3 linked regions of the Homo sapiens genome follow. The protein of the gene in region 1 interacts with the protein of each later gene in a pairwise test. Each region holds a gene or a part of one and is shown in the gene's direction. Other genes may lie near its edges.

Region 1 (7,311 bases):
GGATTACAGGCATGAGCCACTGTGGCCGGCAAGACCCTGTCTCTTAAAAAAAAAAAAAAAAAAAAAAGACAGCAGAAATTCAACAGAAAATCTGGAAGATAAAGTTCAAGAAAGTTCCCAGGAAGTAGAGAAAATATAAAAGCAACACAGAAGCCACAGTAAGTCAACCAGAAGGACAACAGAGGACATCCAGTAACTTAATTACAGAAATACCGGAAAGAACAGAGAAAACAGATGGAGGGAATTCATCAATCAAATAATTCAAAATTCCCCACAGCTGAAGGACATGAATTTCTAGCTTGAAAGGGCCCACTGTGTGCCCACACTGTGAAGTGAAAAAAAAAAAACTTTATCAGAAGATTCAGAACACTGGTTATGAAGAAAACATAATTCAAACTTCCAGAGAAAAAAAAGGTCACATACAAAAATCAGGAGTAACACTAGAAGCTAAGATGTAGTGGAAAAATGTTTTCAGATGTCTGAAGAAATATTATTTCCAACAAATAATTCAATACCTAGACAAACAATCACTTAAGTGTAAGGGCAGAAAAAGAACTTTTTCAGCCGGGCGCGATGGTCAGCCTGACTAACATTTAGTATCTCTACTAAAAATAGAAAAACTATTAGCCGGGCATGGTGGCGCATGCCTGTAATCCCAGCTACTCGAGAGACTGAGGCAGGAGAATCCCTTGAACCCAGGAGGCAGAGGGTGCGGTGAGCAGAGATTGCACCATTGCACTCCAGCCTGGGCAACAAGAGCGAAACTCCGTCTCAAAAAAAACCCAAAAAAACAAAAAAACCCCACAACTTTTTCAGACATAAGCCTCAAACAGGGGCCGGTGTGGGGGCTCACAACTATAATCCCAGCACTTTGGGAGGCCAAGGCAGAAGGATCGCCTGAGCCCAGGAGTTCCAGAGTAGCCTGGGCAACAAAGGAAGACCCGTCTCTACAGAAAATAAAATAATCAGCTGGGCATGAGGTGTGATTGCGCAACTGTACTCTAGCCTGGGGAACAGAGTGAGACCCGGTCTCAAAAAATAGAAAAGAAAGCCTCAAAAGGTACATCTCATGCCCCCTTCTTCAGGAAGCTGGCAGAGTCTGTGTGCCATAATATAAGGTAGTAAGCCTGGGCAACACAGTGAAACCCCGTCTCTACAAACAATACAAAAACTAGCTGGGCATGGTGGTGCACACCTGTGGTACCAGTTACTCAGGAGGCTGAGACAAGAGGATCTCTTGAGCCTGGGAGGTTGAGGGAGCAGTGACCTATGATTGTGCCACTGCACTCCAGCCTGGGTGACAGAGCAAGACCTTGTCTCGAAAAAAAAAAAAAAAATTTTACATGGGCCGGGTGCGGTGGCTCATGCCTGTAATCCTGGCACTTTGGGAAGCCAAGGCAGGTGGACCTCTTGAGCTCCAGACTTCGAGTCCAGCCTAGGCAACATAGTGAGACCTTGTCTCTACAAAAAATACAAAAAACTAGCCAGCTGTGGTATTGTGTGCCTGCAGTCCCAGATACTCACTTGGGAGGCTGAGGTGGGAGGATCATCTGAGCCTAGGAGGTCAAAGCTACAGTGAGCTTTGATCATGCTATTGCACATCAGCCTGGGTGACAGACTGTCTCAAAAAAAAAAAAAAGAGGTAGTAAACTGAGAAAAAGAAAACTGTAGGATATACTAAACATAGGACCCAACAAAGATACAGAGAATTCCCAGATAATAATGGTTAAGAGAGATCTCAGCAAACAGCCGAGAGATCAGCCAGTCCATATTAAGCAAGTCCGAAGGCTCTAGAGATGTCTTCAGGAAGGTGAAACTGATAACATACTTCGTTCATCTGAACATCTTGAGGGGAGATTGAGAACACTAGTAAAGGATGTGAGGTTAAAGTAGGAATAAATATGTAAAAAACTAAATAAGCACATAAACAAAACCAAGATAGTTGTAACTCCAGGGAAATCCAAAAGTTACAAAGAAAACAAAAAGTAATCATAGCTTCCTACATGGTTCCACTGTGACTAGTTTATATATCATCATACAAATAAAACTTGGAATCTTGATCTAAAAAAATTACCACTGAAGAATGGGGGTTAGGAAGGGTGCATAACTATATATTAATAGAAAAAAGATTTTGAAAAAGACAGAAAACAGGGCTTCTGAAAATAAACATGAATCAACAGCATTGGTTCCTGTGTCTGAACCATGGGTGTCAGGGGCAATGATTATGCCCCCTTCAGGACTGTCAATGTGTCTTGTGAACCTTCTTGTTGGAGGGAAAAAACCCAAAACTGGCTGGGCACGGTGGCTCACGCCTGTAATCCCAGCATTTTGGGAGGCTGAGGTGTCCGTATCACAAGGTCAGGAGTTTGAGACCAGCCTGGCCAATATGGTGAAACCCCGTCTCTTCTAAAAATACACAAATTAGCCGGGTGTGGTGGCATGCGCCTGTAGTCACAGCTACTTGGGAGGCTGAGGCAGGAGAATCACTTGAACTTGGGAAGCGGAGGTTGCACTGAGCTGAGATCGCCCATTGCACTCCAGCCTGGGAGACAGAGCAAGACTCTGTCTAAAAAAAAAAAACAAACCAACCCAAACTACTGTCAGTGTATGGATTAACCTATTCAGACACAGAACAGTTCTGGCGATTATTGTTTAAAGTGACAGCATTCCAAACCCTCAGGCCATCAAATCTGAGAGCCCAGAACAATTGTATAAGCTAACATCAGTTGGCTTTTTTCCCATCCTTTTTGGAAACAAGTATGTTTGAATACTTGGCTGCACTAATCTTTCAAGCACATATACTTAAGTCTCCTTAATTTTGACTGAGATGAGGAAACAAAGTTGGCTTATTTTTCTCAGTTCCTTAAAAACAGTAACTCAAGATAAACCCTTTCAAAATGCAGTACAGTACTTTTAAAACAAAAGCCATCCAAGTTGAATAAGCGATGGCAGTTTGGGGGCCTGATATGGCTGTTATTTATAAGGTGGCCATTTTTACATCCTAAGAGTAGTTCATTAGTCAATGCATTTTGAGTATATCAAATTTGATTTGATCTTATCCTAGCATACTCTGAACACATCTTGAGATCAACCCTTCTCAAGTGATTTTGGTGAGCATAGCCAAAGAGTACCCTCTGCTGGTCAGAAAAAAAATGGTGCTTTCACAATACCCAGATTTACTCCAACGATTGCATATGCATTTAGGTTTTGTGGCTCTTAAAATGCTTTTTTTTTTTTTTTTGAGATGGAATTTCGCTCTTGTTGCCCAGGCTGGAGTGCAATGGCGCGATCTCGGCTCACGGCAACCTCCGCCTCCCGGGTTCAAGCGATTCTCCTGCCTCAGCCTCCTGAGTAGCTGGAATTACAGGCGCCCGCCACCACGCCCAGCTAATTTTTTGTATTTTTAGTAGAGACGAAGTTTCACCATGTTGGCCAGGCTGGTCTCGAACTCCTGACCTTAGGTAATCCAACTGCCTCGGCCTCCCAAAGTGCTGGGATTACGGGAGTGAGCCACTGCGCTGGGCCTACTTTTTAAAGTGTATGGAAGCATTAACTTTAATGTTAACATCAGAATTTGAGAAAAAGAAGTTTAATAATTCAAAATTTCGTGTAAAATAATCAAGAACTCCACGTTTCTATCACTCACTGTAGGCTCCCGTCCCTTCCACCCCCGGGCGGGGACCCCTCCCAGCGACCCGGCCAGCTCTCAGCACTTCGGTCCCCACTGGCCTACTCGCTCCGACGGAGGGGCTCCTGCAACTGCGCTGTACCGTAAATATTTGCTGAATCGATTTGACTTTTACTTGTTCCAATTTCGCTTTTTTGTTGTTTTGTTTTTTTGTCTTTTTACGAACAAGAGGTTTAGAGAACCACATGGAAAAAAGGCAGGGCCAGGCCCGGACACCCCGCCTCCTGCCTCCCGGCCCGGCGGTGCCCGGATGCCCCGCCCGCGCCCATGGCGCAGCCACACACGACCTCGGTCCCGTACTTCGCGCGCTCTCCTGCACCGCCGCCGCCATCTCGCTCAGGAGCTCCTCCACAACCGCCGGCAACACTACGGCCATCGCGCCGCAGGACACGCCCTCCACGACCGGCGGACCGCCGCGACGCTCCAGCTGACTGCGCCTACCTGTGGAGGATCCTGACCCCCCGCCGGGGCAGGGCGAGACGGAGTGACGTCGGGGCGCGTCATCGCGCGTGCGGACGCAGGGATGTCCTGCTCAGTCGTCAGGGCCCGGCCAATCCGGAGGGCGCTCGGCGCGTGGTCGGGGGCCAGGAGCGCGTCTGGCCTGCAGTGCGCAGAGGACGCGGCGGGAGCATGTTCCGGCTCCTGAGCTGGAGCCTGGGCCGAGGCTTCCTGCGGGCCGCGGGGCGGCGGTGCCGGGGCTGCTCCGCGCGCCTGCTCCCGGGGCTGGCAGGAGGTCCGGGGCCCGAGGTGCAGGTGCCGCCATCCCGAGTCGCGCCGCACGGCCGGGGCCCAGGCCTGCTGCCGCTGCTGGCAGGTGAGGGGCGCGGGCCGGGCGGGGCCGGCCGGGCGGGGACAGGGGCGCGGGCCGGGCCCGATGACCTCAGAGCCCCTTCCCGCAGCGCTCGCCTGGTTCTCGAGGCCCGCTGCGGCAGAGGAGGAGGAGCAGCAGGGAGCCGACGGGGCCGCTGCCGAGGACGGGGCGGACGAGGCCGAGGCAGAGATCATCCAGCTGCTGAAGCGAGCCAAGGTGAGGCGGCTCCGGGCCCTGCGCCCGGCCGAGCGCGGTAGCCTTTGTGAGCGGGGTCTTGGCGTTGCTGCGCATTACTCTCTCCGCCTCGCCGAAGAGTGGATGGAGGCTCCGCGGGTAAAATTGCCGAGAATGAGGTGGGTCATCCGAGAGGGGATTGGAATCCATCCAGGCTTTTCCGACTCTAAGGCCTGCAGTAAAACCTCTGCAGTGTCAAGTGCAAATGGAGATGGCGCCCTAGGCATCACGCTTTATGCAAACGAAATATCGGGAACGTTTTGTAGTGGTTTTATCAATTAACCAGCCTATCTGAAATGACATAATTTCGCACGTATATAGCGGCCTGAAAATGGCAACTTAGTGTTGGTTATGCGGTTCGGTTCTCCTCCTGAATTCTTCCTTTTCTCCACATCCTTTTCTATTTTTTTTTCCTCCTCTTTTCCCAAGTTATCTCATCTCTTCCATTGAGCTAAATACCTACTCGATGCCAACAACGTCCAAATTTGTATTTCCATTCTGTAGTGTGCTACTGACATGCCATTTGCACTTTAGGACCATACCTACCTCTCAGATTTAACATGCCCAAAACTAAACGATCTTTAATGCCTCCTCAACATACGCTTTCGCCATCTCTTTACTACCATCAGTTTTTCAGCCTAAAAACCTCATAGTCATTCTTAAAACTTGTGGTACCTTACCATTGCCTTCCAATACACTTACAGTCCAGCAACAAGTCCTGTTGCCAACAAATGCAAAATATTTCTCAAATCTTTCCCCTTTTGTCTATCTCCCTTGCTGTCACCCTAGTGCAAACCATCATTGCCACCAACTATGCTCCAGTAGTCTTTCCTGGCCTCCTGGCCTCTTGCAATCTATTCTCCATGCAGAAACCAAAGCGACCAAAAAAAAAAAGAGTAAATTGGATTATGTCATCTCCTTGTCAGAAAGCTCTGAATGGCTACCCACTGCATTTATGATAAAATACAAACTCCTTGCCTTGGCTTGCAACACCCCACATGATCTAAACCAGCATATACCTTGCCCACCCATTTGGCAGTAATCCTCTGGCTCACCATCCTCCCTTCACATCTATTTCTTTGCATTTCTTCCTCAAAACCATTCTCTTCAGCTTGTAGGGACTTCACTCATTCTCTACCCTCTGTTTGAGTCATTGTTCTCCCCAGGTCCTTATTTGGTTGACTCATTCTCATCCTTACTACCTCAGTTTAGCTGTCACTTCCTTGGAAGGCTTCCCTAAGTCCTATTTAGAGGAGACCCCTTATCATTCCTTTCTGTCATCTTTATAGCTCTTATCATTAGTTGTAATTAAGCTTACTTGTCCTATATGGTCACCTCCAGCCTGCAAGAAATTAGAAAGAGGATGGAGGACAAGCAGCTTCCTTATAAAATATGTTGTAAGATCACATTCCTTCTGCCTGTGTCTCTTGGCCAAAACTTCATCAGATGGCCACACCTAGCTGCAAGGGAGGCTGACCTCCCTGTCATCTCTGTAGACAATGCTTTGTACATAGTAGGAATTCAGTAAATGTCTGATGAATGAGTTAGCTTCCTTCTATCAGTTGGGATGTACAGTTGCATACACTTCTGTCTCTTAGCATATGCATCTACTATATGTTTCATTTTCTATTATTTTGTCTTCCCTTTTCAGTTGAGCATTATGAAAGATGAGCCAGAAGAGGCTGAGTTAATTTTGCATGACGCTCTTCGTCTCGCCTATCAGACTGATAACAAGAAGGCCATCACTTACACTTATGATTTGGTAACTCTTATAACCAGTCTGAACCACTGATGAGGAAGGTTGGATGGGAGGGAAGGGTAGTTAGTTCTTCTGATTTATATTCCTGACTTTCACGATGTTCTAAAACTCCTTTTCTTTTTACTGAGTTTTCTTTTGGCTTCAGTTTCATTTTTTGTTTTGTTTTGTTTTTTTGAGATGGAGCCTCACTCTGTTGCCCAGGCTGCAGTGCAGTGGCACAATCTTGGCTCACTGCAGCCTCCGCCTCATGAGTTCAGACGATTCTTTTGCCTCACCCTCCCGAGTAGCTGGATTACAGGCATGCATCACTATGCCTGGCTAAATTTTGTATTGTAGTAGAGACGAGGTTTCACCATATTGGCCAGGCTGGTCTCGAACTCCTGATCTCAGGTGATCCACCTGCCTTGGCCTCCCAAAGTGCTGAGATTTCAGGCATGAGCCACCACGCCCGGCCACAGCTTCAGTTTTTTTACCCTTGGGGTGACATAAGACCTCTCAATTCCAGACCAAAAAAAACCAGTATCATTAGCATGTTTTTTTAATGATGAGTGGACCTAGATTTGGTTTGTTAACAACAAAGTATGTGCAAGTATTTAATTCTCACATGATTGCTGTCCTGTGCTTCTTCTTGCAGATTAATTGGTGATGTGCTTTTCATTTTCAACTATTTTTTAAATTTTGAGGGTGAAAGCAAAAGGGAATTTTAAAGTTTTGAAATAAGTAGGAACACAGTATTCTAAACTGAAAAACAATTTGTAATTTGCTTTCAGATGGCCAACTTAGCATTTATACGGGGTCAGCTTGAAAATGTAAGTAAAT
Region 2 (5,835 bases), on another chromosome or scaffold:
CTACAACACTGGCTTGTTGTCATTTCTCCCTCATCACCTCCTACCCCTTTCATCCTTTTTCACTCTGCCTAGAATGCCCCTCCCATTTTTAGAAACTCCTTTGAGGCCATGACAGCCTGGGCACTTCTCTGTGGGGACCTCTACAGGCAGAAATCTTTAAGACCTCTTTCTGACTCCCAGCACCCATACCCCCACAATGGTTGGAATGAACTTAAGGGTGTTCCTCCAGGAGTCTGCTCGGAGTCTTAGCACAATGTCCATGTGTTTTTCTGCAGCCCCCAATGATTTTAGCCACCATCTCGTGGGCACCTGGCAGGTGCCCTGCCCTAGACTGGGAAACAAGTGGGCACCAAGTCATGCAAAGCCCGTGCTCCAGCCCAGATTCTTTCTCTCATTTACTAGGTGACCAGAGAAAGTCATGGAACCTCTCTGAGCTCAGCCACCCCTCTACATCCAATACAGACAAGAATAATCTCTGCTTTGTCCAACTCCTAGCACTTTAGGAGGCCAAGGCAGGTGGATCACCTGAGGTCAAAGAAAATAATCTCTGCTTTGTCCAGTATCAGAGTCAACAGAAGCTTGGGGTTAAGAAAGGCTTTCTGGGAGACTGATGCAGTATGCATGTGATAGGGATCCTTCCCTTTAAGAAGCCTGGTTTGTAGGGCTCTCAGAAAGGCTCCTCTACACCCCAACAGACTTCTGCTCTCTCTATCCCTCAATCTGTCAAGCTGCCTGAAATTCTGCCATCTGTCATTCTTTTGGGCTAAGGTATTATTATTGTTTATATCCAGATGGCCCCTGTTAAAAGATGCCAGCGATCTGGAAATGGTAACACAGTAGCCCCAGGAGCAAAAGCATGCTTTACCATTAATAAACATCTCTCTCATGGTCATTCTCTGACCCTGGTGTTGGAAGGTAAATAGGTGTGAGCTTTCTGGAGATAAAGTTGGCAATACTCATCAAAAGCTTTACAAATATGCACACTCTTTGATGCAACAATTCCTCCTCTGGAAATTTCTTCTAAGGGAACAATGTGTTCAAAACTATGTATACAAAGAAGTCTTATTTATAGTAGCACAGAATTATAAATAAATAACTTAAATGTCCAAAATAGGTAATTGGCTAAATAACAGTATGTATGTACAATCAAATACTATCAGGGACTGTTTTGTGGGCCTGTGACAAAGGCAGTCCATCAGGGCCCCAGGCTCAGAAAGCCCCTCACTTGGTTTAATGCTCTGCTGTCACCAGCTTAAAAATCTTAATGATTTTGAGCAAAGAATCCCTCATTTTCATTTTGTGGTGGACCACACACACACTATGTAGCTACTTCCTAGAATATTACGTAGCAATTAAAATAATGCTTATGGAGAATATTTGTTGAAATGGGAAGTTGCTTCAATTAAATGAAGAAATGAGGATATGAAACCATAAATGATGCAATCCTAATTTTGTATAAAACAGAAACATGTAGATAGATAGATAGATATAAAAAAAAAAGAGTGGATGGAAATTTACCATACATTGTAACATATACAATGTTAGAGCAATTATCTCTTTTTTTTTTTTTTTTAAGACGGAATTTTGCTCTTGTTGTCCAGGCTGGAATGCGATGACATTATCTCAGCTCACTGCAACCTCCACCTCCCGGGTTCAAGCAATTCTCCTGCCTTAGCCTCCCAAGTAGCTGGAATTACAGGCATGCACCACCACGCCCAGCTAATTTTGTATTTTCAGTAAAGAAGTAGAGACGGGGTTTTACCATGTTGATCAGGCTGGTCTCGAACTCCTGACCCCAGGTGATCCACCTGCCTCAGCCTCCTAAAGTGCTAGGATTACAGGTATGAGCCACCACGCCTGGCCTAGAGTAATCATCTCTAAAGAAACAAAACTACATGTATCATTTTTATTACCATTTTCTTCTTCGGTGTTTTTTTTTTTAATTTTCCAATACAAAGACTATGACTATACTTCCTGACTAATATTTCCAGAAGAGGCAAAAATGTATGTCATAGCTGAAAACAAGCAATTGTCTCTTGTGCCTCTGAGTGAATCCGGAACCCTTCATATGCACAGTAGCCTTCTGGATAAACACATGAAGAGAAGATCAGTTGATGAGGAAACCAAGTGTTCTTATGAGCTTCTTGAAGCTGAGGACTGATTTCTGGGTCCCCACTTCCCTCTACAGGCCTGGGATGGAAGGAGCACGGATAAGTGAATGGGTGTCCTGTCTTATTTATGGCATGAGGTCATGAGTAGTCTTTACCCATGACATGTCTCACCACACATTAACCACACTATGTTTTGCGTTCTCTCTAGCCTGGGACTAGACTGTGCCCTGAGTGAATTTCTGGATCAGAGAGAGGATCTGCCCCCCAAGTCCTTTTATGCCCCATTTCTCTCTGGAGCAGAGAGCAGACTTACTCCTATGCAAAGCTGGGGGAGCACATGTGGCTCCACCTGCCTCCCTCGTGCATGTGTCGCATTGCAGGCTTCACCCCAACAGCAGGGGGCAGTAGTGATCAGCAGGCCCAGGTGGGAGGCCTGGGGTGGGGAGGTCCTCCTGCAGGGAGTGGCCCCACTAACGCCACACCCATCTCCCATAAGTCTCCTCTCCCAAATCCTTTATTCGGCTGTTGCTGACTGTCCTGACTCAGCTGAGCATGGCAAGGAACACAAGGATCCTAGAACCTTAGCTCTCTACATTCAAGGCCTGAGTTAATGTCCCCATGTGACAGATGAGAGCACAGGGGCCCTGAAAAGGGAAGGATTTGCTGAGAGCCACACAGTGAGCAAGGGGCAAACAGAGTGCTGAGCACTACTGTGGGGAGGCCAGGCTCATAACACAGAACTGCCCCATATGGGACGGCTATTCAAAAGAAGGTGGGCAGCCCCAAATATGAGTGATGCCCACTGCACTTTCTGTGTGCCCACATCTGCGACATGTGTCCCAGTCTAGGGCACACTCATGGCTATGCTGGGATGACAGGACCACCTTGCCTCTGAAGTCCAACACTTTTTTCAGCCCCGTGTTGCTAGGTGGGCCTTTTCTGCTCCACTAAGACTGAAATCTCCCCAGGACACAGGCTGGGCCTCCTCCTCCTGCCTGTCTTCCCTTCAGCATGCCCAGCACATGGCAGGGCTCACAGTGCTCAGGGAAGATGTGGGGGCTCAAATGTGGGGTGTAGAGGGTGTCACAGTGCTCATCTGTGCTCTGCCAAGCCCAGGCTGGGCTGTGGGATTTTCCTCGCCTTCCTCCTCAGTTCCCTGGTGCCCTCCTGATGAGCTCCTAAGTGTACTTCCCGCTGTCCCACCTCAGGCCTTCACCGGGTGGTGGGCTACTGGGAGCTCTTCTCCACAGCGCCTCCTTTCCTCTCCTTCAGCTCCATTCTTCTCTCCTTAGAGCCCAGCCCTAGTGAATCCCACTCCCTGGACTCTCACCTGGGCTCCCACAGCCTCTGGCCTATAACCCTGGTGACCATGAACGCTTCAAGAAGCAATTTAGTCCATTGGGGTGGGGACCTTCAGAGCCCCACAGATCTGTGTTCAGACCTGGTTCTTCTACTGAACAACATGGGTGAACTTGGCAAGTCCCTTAAGCTGATCTGTGAAAAGGAGATGCTAATCCCTGCTCACGTGGATAGGCATGAGGCTTCAGAGACAGCACAGAGAGTGCCTGGCAGAGCAGGTAGGCAGCTAACAGCTGCCATTTGTACCTTCACTGGGTTATTTATATCTAAGGTCATTCTCCCTGTGAGATGAAGAGCGCTTTGAGGGCAGGGGTGGGGTCTTTTTGGTATCCCAGGACTTAGCATAGGTTGAAACAATGAATGGATGAATGAAGTGTCTGGGGATGGTCAGGGTACACTCTGAGAAGTCTGCCCCTCACCATAAGATTCTGGAAAACATCCTTCACCCCTCACACCCAGCTGTGCTCAGCCCTCAGGCCCTCCTCTCCACCTTAGCCCCATTCTCAGTGCTTGCAATGACAGCCCCACTCCAATGACTTTTTCCCTCCTAATTACCCTTTTAAATAAAATTTATGAAGGTTTTCATAAATTTTAAAACTGATTTACACACTTTAATAAAAGCATGTGATGGACAGGGAGTATTAGGCTGCAGATTTTCTACAATGAAATTGACGTGAGCACATCCCAGATTATCAAGTTTGGGAGCTGCCCCCTCCCCCAGCCTCCAGGAGCTCCCCGCTTGCTCAGGATTGACAAATGTGTCTCTTTCTTGGCAGACAACAGTGAGCTGGGACGGAGACAAGCTCCAGTGTGTGCAGAAGGGTGAGAAGGAGGGGCGTGGCTGGACCCAGTGGATCGAGGGTGATGAGCTGCACCTGGTAGGTTCCTGGGCTGGGTCAGGCCGGGTCCCCAGAGGCCCTGGTCATTGTTGAGGTCCAGATGGACCTTGGAAAAAGGCACCATGGATGGGCCTTGGTTCTGTTCTAAAGCTTCTCTTCCAAGGGCCTGGAAAAGATGCCTGGGTGACTTTAAAAACCAAGCAATGTATTTTCAAGGTCTAGGCTGACCCAATCATCTAATCAGAGGGAAGAGGTGAGGAGTTATATCCATTAAGCATCAGCAATGAGCTAAGCCCTTTTGCATTCTATAACTCTATTCTCTCAGAATAGGAATATGGCTCTTATTTTAGAGATGAGGACCTGGGGGCTCTGAAAGATTAGATTACATGTCCAAATTGCACAACTAGAAAGTGACAGAACAAACATTTGCTCCCAAATGATGTATATATTCACCATGCCAAATTGTATAGGCCAAAGCCAAGAAGGATTCTCTAAGCTTCTCTAAGATATGATCTCAATCTGGGTCAGCGGGAGGTGATTCGGGAGGGGAAGCGTCAAGGGGTCCTGTTGGTCAGCTCTGAGCCACATCCATTCCTCTCAGCCAGCTCTGTCTGTAGGGTGCTGCAGAGCACTCCACTATACAGTTTAACTGTCTTTCCAAACAATTGGTTACTTAAACCAACTCTTGGGGAAAAATAACAGCCAATGAGTATTTTTAGAGTTCTTGCCGTAAGTGTGACTCTGCTCTGGCCAATGACCAACATCTGCTTTTGTTTCAGGAGATGAGAGTGGAAGGTGTGGTCTGCAAGCAAGTATTCAAGAAGGTGCAGTGAGGCCCAGGCAGACAACCTTGTCCCAAGGAATCAGCAGGATGTGTGGGCCAGGATCCCCCTCTTTGCACAGCATGAGGCAAAAATGTCCAGCCACCCCCAGGCATCTGTTAGCAGAGTCTGTCTCTTGGCTTTGTCACTTTTCCTTTTCTTAAAACAAAGCCATGCCAATAAAGTGATCTGTGTTCAAAACGTCTGTTTGGGGGAAGTTTCACTGCCCACTGTGCTCACTTTTTCTCCAGGGCTTCTGAGGCCAGCTTCTCCTAGTGCCACCCATGGGCAGAGTGGATAAATTCAGCCACATGTCCTGAAATTGCACCGTGTTTCTCTCCAGAGGCACAGGCTTGGGTCTAGAATGGGAGGTGGGAGAGTGGCCTGACATTCAATCATTTGTGTATCAAGTAGCTACCATGTTATGTATCTAATTGTGGCCAAAGTATAGTGAGTGCCACAAAAGCAGGAGAAGATACCTTCCACCCTAGAGATCCAACCAACAGAGAATGTCTATATAACTGCACAGTACACCAAGGAGATGCTTCATCATTATTTGTGAATGAAATGGAACTGGACAGAATTTTAAGCCCAAAGCATAAAATTACTTAAACATAAGTAATTACCTATTGGATTTAATTTCAGAGATGTCATGAGATGTCACCACCCTCAGACCATCCACCCCATCTACGGGCTGGTATCAGC
Region 3 (7,030 bases), on another chromosome or scaffold:
ACCTGTAATCCCAGCCACTATGGATGGAGGCTGAGACAGGAGAATTGCTTGAGTCTGCGAGGCGGAGGTTGCGGTGAGCCAAGATCACGCCACTGTACTCCAGCCTGGGTGACTGCGAGACTCCGTCTCAAAAAACAAAAACAAAAACAAAAAACAACAACAACAAAGGATACATTTAAGAAAAAAAAAAGGATACACTTTTCCCCATTTTTTATATGGCCTTGGGATTTATGCTATCAATTATAGTTTAATCTCCTGAAATTTTTATAGTAGTTATATGTGTGTGTGTGTTTGCCTGTAAGAGAAAGAGAGATGGGGGAGAGATAATGCATATAGAGGATGGTCAGTCATCATAATCACAGTTACTCTTTATGGAATTCCTGTTTTGTACCTGGCCCTAAGTATTCTGCGTACATTATTTTGTTGCATCCTTTCAGCAGATCACATTTATTATAGGTAGTAAATGGCCTGAATGTGATGGAGCTAGGATTGGAATGTAGATTCATCTTATTCTTCATCATCATTATCCTCACCATAATCATCATCAAAACATTTATTCCACACTTACCACATATTAGGCACTGGGCTAATTATACGTATCTACATTATTTTATTTAATTCTTATAACAATCCTATGAGATAGATGTTATTATTAGTCACATTTTTTCTGATGAAGTACCTAAGAGTTAGTTCAATAACTTGGTCAATATGCCACAGCTGTTAGATGGTGGAGCTGAGACCTGTTCTATTCCACTAACTCTGTGTCCCCAAGTTGTATAATTCACATAATGTTCTCTAGGAATGGGACCCTTTGGATCTCCACTAAAAGCATGTTACCTCCCGAGGTTCTGCAATATTGTTGGCCCTGCAGAGGGTGCACTTTTTGTTTTTTTTGAGATGGAGTCTCGCTCTGTTGCCCAGGCTGGAGTGCAGTGGCGCAGTCTCGGCTCACTGCAAGCTCCGCCTCCCAGGTTCACGCCATTCTCCTGCCTCATCCTCCCGAGTAGCTGGGACCACAGGTGCTCGCCACCACACCCGGCTAATTTTTTTGTGTTTTTTAGTAGAGACGGGGTTTCACCGTGTTAGCCAGGATGGTCTCGATCTCCTGACCTTGTGATCTACTTGCCTCAGCCTCCCAAAGTGCTGGGATTACAGGAGTGAGCCACTGCACCCGGCCTGCAGAGGGTATACTTTTAACCACTATGTTCTTTCTACTACCATGCTGCTTCCTTTAGAAGTCAGTAAATTATACAACTTTAGATCTTTATAAGGAAGGGCTAAGTAGCCTGCAGCTGTCATTTCTTAGTTCTTATAATTTGTCAATTATAACAAAGTGAAACGTGCCTTTTTGTTTTCTTTCCAACTACTTTTTAACAAATTTTAGACAAATTTGTTATACATGACAGTTATCTAAGTTCTTGTGCAGGAAAAATAAGACTTTTTGTCCTTTATCAGCATACAATTCTTCTGTTGTACATGATGTAATAGTTTGAAGCTGCCAAAGTCCAGCCCTCAGGAAATTGTTTGAGTTGAGTAACTATTCGCTGGAGAGTTTAAGATAACCAGCTCATAAATCAACAAATAGCTTGGCCCTTTTTATGGTTGTAGATGCTTATCTCTTTCTATTTTCAAGCTTGAATCAGAAGCAAATATTGTTTCCATTTATATAGTCACTATTAGAAAAAGTTGTCAGCAGTATCTCAAGCTAGATAAGGCCATTTTGTGAGTTCTTTTCTTTAAGGAGAGTCAGAATTTATCAGGATGTTAGAATTGGTTGTTCTAGGCTAGGTACCTTCAAACAAAAAGTTTTCTCTTTCAATGAAACTGTCAGTGATTCAATGCCTATTATATTCAACCTCTGTGTGGAATTAGAAAGATGCCCTTAAGACAAAATGTAGTCCACGTACCCAAATAACTGTAACATGAGGGAGAATGTGAGTATTGTAATCCAAACCCCACCATGCACTGAGAGCACAGAGGAGGATGAAATAAATTGGGAGATTGGAAAGGTGAGAGGGTGAGAGAATGATCTGGGAAGGCTTTTCCTTGTAGGATAGTTAAGATTTTCAGCAAGAATAAATGGAGAGGAAAGGCATTCCAGAGAGAGGCAATATTAGAGTCAAGACAATGAGAAAGTAAAGGACAGGGTATATTTGTTATAAAGAAAGGAGTCTAGTGTACTTGGAGTGGAGGATGAGTGAGAGGCACATAATGGATGATCAATGAAATGTTTGATCAGTGAGTGAATGAGTAGATGAAGCTGGAAATGGTGGTAAGGTCCGGTGATTCTCAAACTTTACGCTGGTGCCAGACATATTTAATTCTATCTTATAATTAGGAATTAATTTTTTTTTTCTTTGAGCTGGAGTCTTGCTCTGTCACCAGGCTAGAGTGCAGTGGTGCGATCTTGGCTCACTGCAACCTCTGCCTCCCGGGTTCAAGATTCTCCTGCCTCAGCCTCCTGGGACTACAGGCACGCGCCACCACGCCCAGCTAATTTTTGTATTTTTAGTAGAGACGGGGTTTCACCATGTTGGCCAGGATGATCTTGATCTCTTGACCTCGTGATCTGCCCACCTCAGCCTCCTAAAATGCTGGGATTACAGGTGTGAGCCACTGTGCCTGGCCAGGAATTAATTTTATTGGCAGAATATGTGAATATCAAAAATATGCAGCATAAAAATCACAATCATGAACATGATTCAGTGATATGATTTGGATGTTTGTTCCCTCAAATCTAATGCTGAAATGTGATCCCCAATGTTGGGGCCTAGTGGAAGGTATTAGATCATGGGGGTGGATCCCTCATGAATAGCTCAGTGATGAGTGAGTTCTCACTCAGTTAATTCACACAAGATCTGGTTGTTTAAGAGAGCCTGAGACCTCTCCCTTGTCTCTCTCGCCATGTGACACCTGGGCTTCCCTTTGCGGTCTGTCATGATCGTAAGCTCCCTGAGGCCTTGCCAGAAGCTGAGCAGATGCTGGTGCCATGCTTCCCATACACAGTGCAGAACCATTAGCTGATTAACTTCTTTTCTTTATAAATTACCCAGCCTTGGGTATTTCTTTATAGCAGTGCAAACATGGCTTAACACTGTCAGTTAGGAAAAAAGGTGTTAAAATAGTTCCAATTGACTGCTTTGATTTTTTTCCCTCTTAATTTTGCTACTATTTGTTCAAGTTTCTGTAGTGCTAGCAGTAGACTAAGTAGGTAAGAAAAAATTATGGTAGAGAAACTTATGAAAAATCCATCTATTAATTTTCTTTCCTGTGAATTAGAAAAATACCATTGTTCTTTTCCAGCCAAAAGAATATCTCCCTCTAGGAGCCATTAAATATTTTGAAAAGGAGTGACATGGTGTGGAATGTGTTTTAGGAGTCAGGTGGTAGTGACATGTAGGATTAGAGGACTGGCAATGAGTCAGTAATGTGGTGCAGTGGTCCAGATGTGGTGAGGATCTGAACCTTAGTAGCAGCAGCAGTGAAAATAGAATGAAAGGAAATAGAGATCCACACCAGGCCCTCTGTTTCTAAATAGGAAATAGTTACCAATTATTAACCAGCTTTCATATTGTTAGGATATTACGGGTCTCAATGGTCGGTTATCTCTGGTCTCAAGTCCTTTCACTCTATTTTTAGGGAAAATGTGTTTAAACCCCTATTTTAAGGAAATGATAGTTTATAGATTATTTATAAATTATAGTTAATTTAGAAAATAGAAAAAAGGAAAAAAATCCATAATTTCATCATCCTAACAAGACCGCTATCATTTTACATTTACTTACCCCGATGTTGCTGAGTTTTAAACTTCTCTGTTAATTCATTCTGCGCACATTTAGCTCTGAGAAACAGGTTTCTGAACTAATAAAACACCCAATAATTGCCATACTGTGATATTAAACAGTAAACCAAGAGGTTTCACATATAACCCTCAGTGGATTGTAGGATCACAAACTACGTCAACGTCTCTTCTTTTTTTTTTGAGACAAAGTCTCACTCCATTGCCAGGCTGGAGTGCAGTGGCGTGATCTTGGCTCACTGCAACCTCCGACTCCCTGGTTCAAGCAATTCTCCTGCCTCAGCCTCCCGAGTAGCTGGGATTACAGGCACATGCCACCACGCCCGGCTAATTTTTGTATTTTTAGTACAGATGGGGTTTCACTATGTTGGCCAGACTGGTCTCGAGCTCCTGACCTCGTGATCTGTCCGCCTCGGCCTCCCAAAGTGTTGGCATTACAGGCGTGAGCCACTGTGCCCGTTCACATCTCTTCTTTTCCTATAAATCAATCTTGGTCCATCTACCTTTAGACATATAAATATTTATTTCCCAAATGCCTCAATCCCTTTTGGGCCCAAAGTTCCATCTTCTTCAGTGAATTATTTGCATAATTTAAAATGTTTTTTATTTTGAATTTATAGAAAAGTTGGAAAAATAGTTACCTCTAATGATACCATCTTATATAACCATAATACATTTATCAGAACCAGGAATTAATAGTATTGGTATAACACTATTAACTAAAGAGCTTTCCTGAATTTCACCAGTTTGCCTACCATTATTATTTTTCCTTTTTTATTTTCAGTTTTTTTAAATTGTAATTTATTTTTTTTTTATTTTTAAAGACAGGGTCTTGCTTTGTCACCCTGGCTGGAGTGCAGTGGCACAGTCATAGCTCACTACAGGCTTGAATTTCCAGGCTCAAAAAGTCCTCCTGCCTCACCCTTCTGAGTAGCTGGGACTACAGGCAAGCATTAGCCTGGCTAATTAAAAAAAATTTTTTTTGGCCAGGTGCAGTGGCTCACGCCTGTAATCCCAGCACTTTGGGAGGCTGAGGCGGGCGGATCACCCGAGGTCAGCAGTTTGAGACCAGCCTGGCCAACATAGTGAAACCCCATCTTTACTGAAAATACAAAAATTAGCTGGGCGTGGTGGCAGGCGCCTGTAATCCCAGCTACTCCAGAGGCTGAGGCAGGAGGATTGCTTGAACCCAGGTGACTGAGGTTGCAGTAAGCCAAGATCGCGCCATTTTACTCCAGCCTGGGTGACAAGTGAGAAACTTTGTTTCAAAAAAAAATTTTCTTTGTTTTGTAGAGACAGGGTTTCGCCATCTTGCACAAGCTGCATTGTTCTTTTTCTGTTCCAGGATCCTATCTGGAATCTCACATTGCATTTTAGGTGTTTTTCTTCCTTACTCTTCTGTATTCTGTAAAAGTTTCTTAGTCTTTCTTTGTCTTTTATAACCTTGACATTTTTGTAGAGTATTGATCAATATCAGTTTGAGGGCTATTTGTCAAATATTCCTTAATTTGGATTTGTCTGATATTTTTCTGATGATTGGACTGAGATTATGGTTTAGGCAAGAATACCACAGAAATAATTGTGTCCTTTTCAGTGCATCATATCATGGCATTCATGATGTCAATATGTATTATTACTGGTTATTTTGACCTTGATCACTTGGTTAAGGTAGTTTCTGCTGGGTTTCTCCATTGTGAAACTACTATATTTTCCTTTGTAGTTAATAAATGCCTTAGTGGAGATACTTTGATACTGTCATTTTTATTAATGTCATGGAGTTCTCTACACATGCAATTAATAGTGTCTCCTTAAAGACTTTATTGAACTTTAGTTACTGTGAAGTCAATTAGCTTAAAGAGTCCATCTCCTTGGATGGGCGCAGTGGTTCACGCCTGTGCCACCGCATGGTTCACAACTTTGGGAGGCCGAGGTGGGTGGATCACTTGAGGCCAGGAGTTCAAGACCAGCCTGGCCAACATGGCGAAACTCTGTCTCTACTAAAAGTACAAAAATAGCCAGGCATGGTGGCGCATGCCTGTAATCCCAGCTACTCGGGAGGCTGAGGTAGGAGAATTGCTTGAACCCGGGAGGTGGAGGTGGCTGTTGCAGTGAGCCAAGATCGCATCACTGCACTCCAGCCTGGGTGACAGAGCGAGACTCTGTCTCAAAAAAAAAAAAAAGTCCTTCTCCTTAGAAACTTCCCACACTTTACACCTGGTTTTATCAAAGGGTTCCCAGGCTTTGCACGAACAAATTCTATCTAGTCTTCATTGATTTCAGTTCCATTCTAGCTCTGCTCATAATGAATCTCTTATGCTAATAACCTGTAGCTCTCTGGGCCTCATTTACCCCTCTGTCTCTTAGGGCGCCAGGCTCCTCCTGGCCCAGTGTCCTTCCAGGCCTCATCTCCCTTTATGCACAAGCCAGTTCCTTTGAATGACTGCTTTGGGTTTTTTCCGAAACAGGCTGAGAGAAGCTGACTTTGTTGGTGAAGAATACAGTGGGGGATAATTAGGGTGGCTGCAGCTGGAGCCTGGTTTATTACTTTGGCCTGAGAAAAATGGTAGCACATTAAGCTGTACTGTGTATACTTGTGAAAGAATCATTCTCTGTATTTCACTAATACAGAGAAAGTGTTTTTTTCTAAAGGTCACCAGCTTCTAGAGGTATGTCTTTAATTCTGGCAACCTTAATCTGTAATGATCTTTTCAATTTAGCCCTGTTGACTGTGGAGTTACTTGCTGTGAGCACAAGAATCCAAAATCCAAATGTGGACCAAATATTATATTTAGATCTATTTAGTTCAAACAAATTTTATACAGTGAATAACATTAGATGTTTCTTTGATTAATAAAATACAAATTTATTAGTATTACTGAATTCAAAGTAGCTTTTTGAATTATGTATTTTCTCAAGTGACATATACTATAAAAGCCCCATTTATGTAATGTGGATGGGGCAGACTTAGATTCTCTGACACTTGAAGCTTATGCAATTCAGAGGGCCTCCTTTAAGGAAAATATTTTTTGAAACAGAAAATGAGATATTGGGCCTTGAGAATCTGTGCAAGAGAAAGAGTCCTGAAGCTTAAGTTTCAGTGGCTTGGTAAATCTGCCTCTGGATGTGAGGCACTGCAAAAAGGTTGAGACCCACTGTTTTCCATCATTTCATACATGGAAAGGTTTTTGGCTTACCCACAGGAGGCTAGTGTTTTCAGATTGGGAACAGTGG

What was found. Proteins that work in one complex are often made in the same cells at the same time.
Region 2: the proteins of TTC19 (region 1) and RBP1 interact in binary tests that used the Homo sapiens proteins (3 or more experiments, as listed by UniProt).
Region 3: the proteins of TTC19 (region 1) and USP54 interact in binary tests that used the Homo sapiens proteins (3 or more experiments, as listed by UniProt).

The regions. Positions count from the first base shown.
Region 1 is NC_000017.11:15,995,531-16,002,841, forward strand, and holds the start of TTC19 (tetratricopeptide repeat protein 19, mitochondrial isoform 1 precursor), read left to right. Parts: upstream 1-4,293; 5' UTR 4,294-4,318; coding exon 4,319-4,502; intron 4,503-4,587; coding exon 4,588-4,715; exon of another isoform or gene 4,716-4,852; intron 4,853-6,384; coding exon 6,385-6,495; intron 6,496-7,262; coding exon 7,263-7,301; intron 7,302-7,311. Other genes in the region: ZSWIM7 (zinc finger SWIM domain-containing protein 7), read right to left, coding at 3,989-4,064. UniProt on the Homo sapiens protein: Required for the preservation of the structural and functional integrity of mitochondrial respiratory complex III by allowing the physiological turnover of the Rieske protein UQCRFS1.
Region 2 is NC_000003.12:139,516,934-139,522,768, reverse strand, and holds the end of RBP1 (retinol-binding protein 1), read left to right. Parts: intron 1-4,246; coding exon 4,247-4,348; intron 4,349-5,088; coding exon 5,089-5,142; 3' UTR 5,143-5,331; downstream 5,332-5,835. UniProt on the Homo sapiens protein: Cytoplasmic retinol-binding protein. Accepts retinol from the transport protein STRA6, and thereby contributes to retinol uptake, storage and retinoid homeostasis.
Region 3 is NC_000010.11:73,581,339-73,588,368, reverse strand, and holds part of USP54 (ubiquitin carboxyl-terminal hydrolase 54), read left to right. Parts: intron 1-7,030.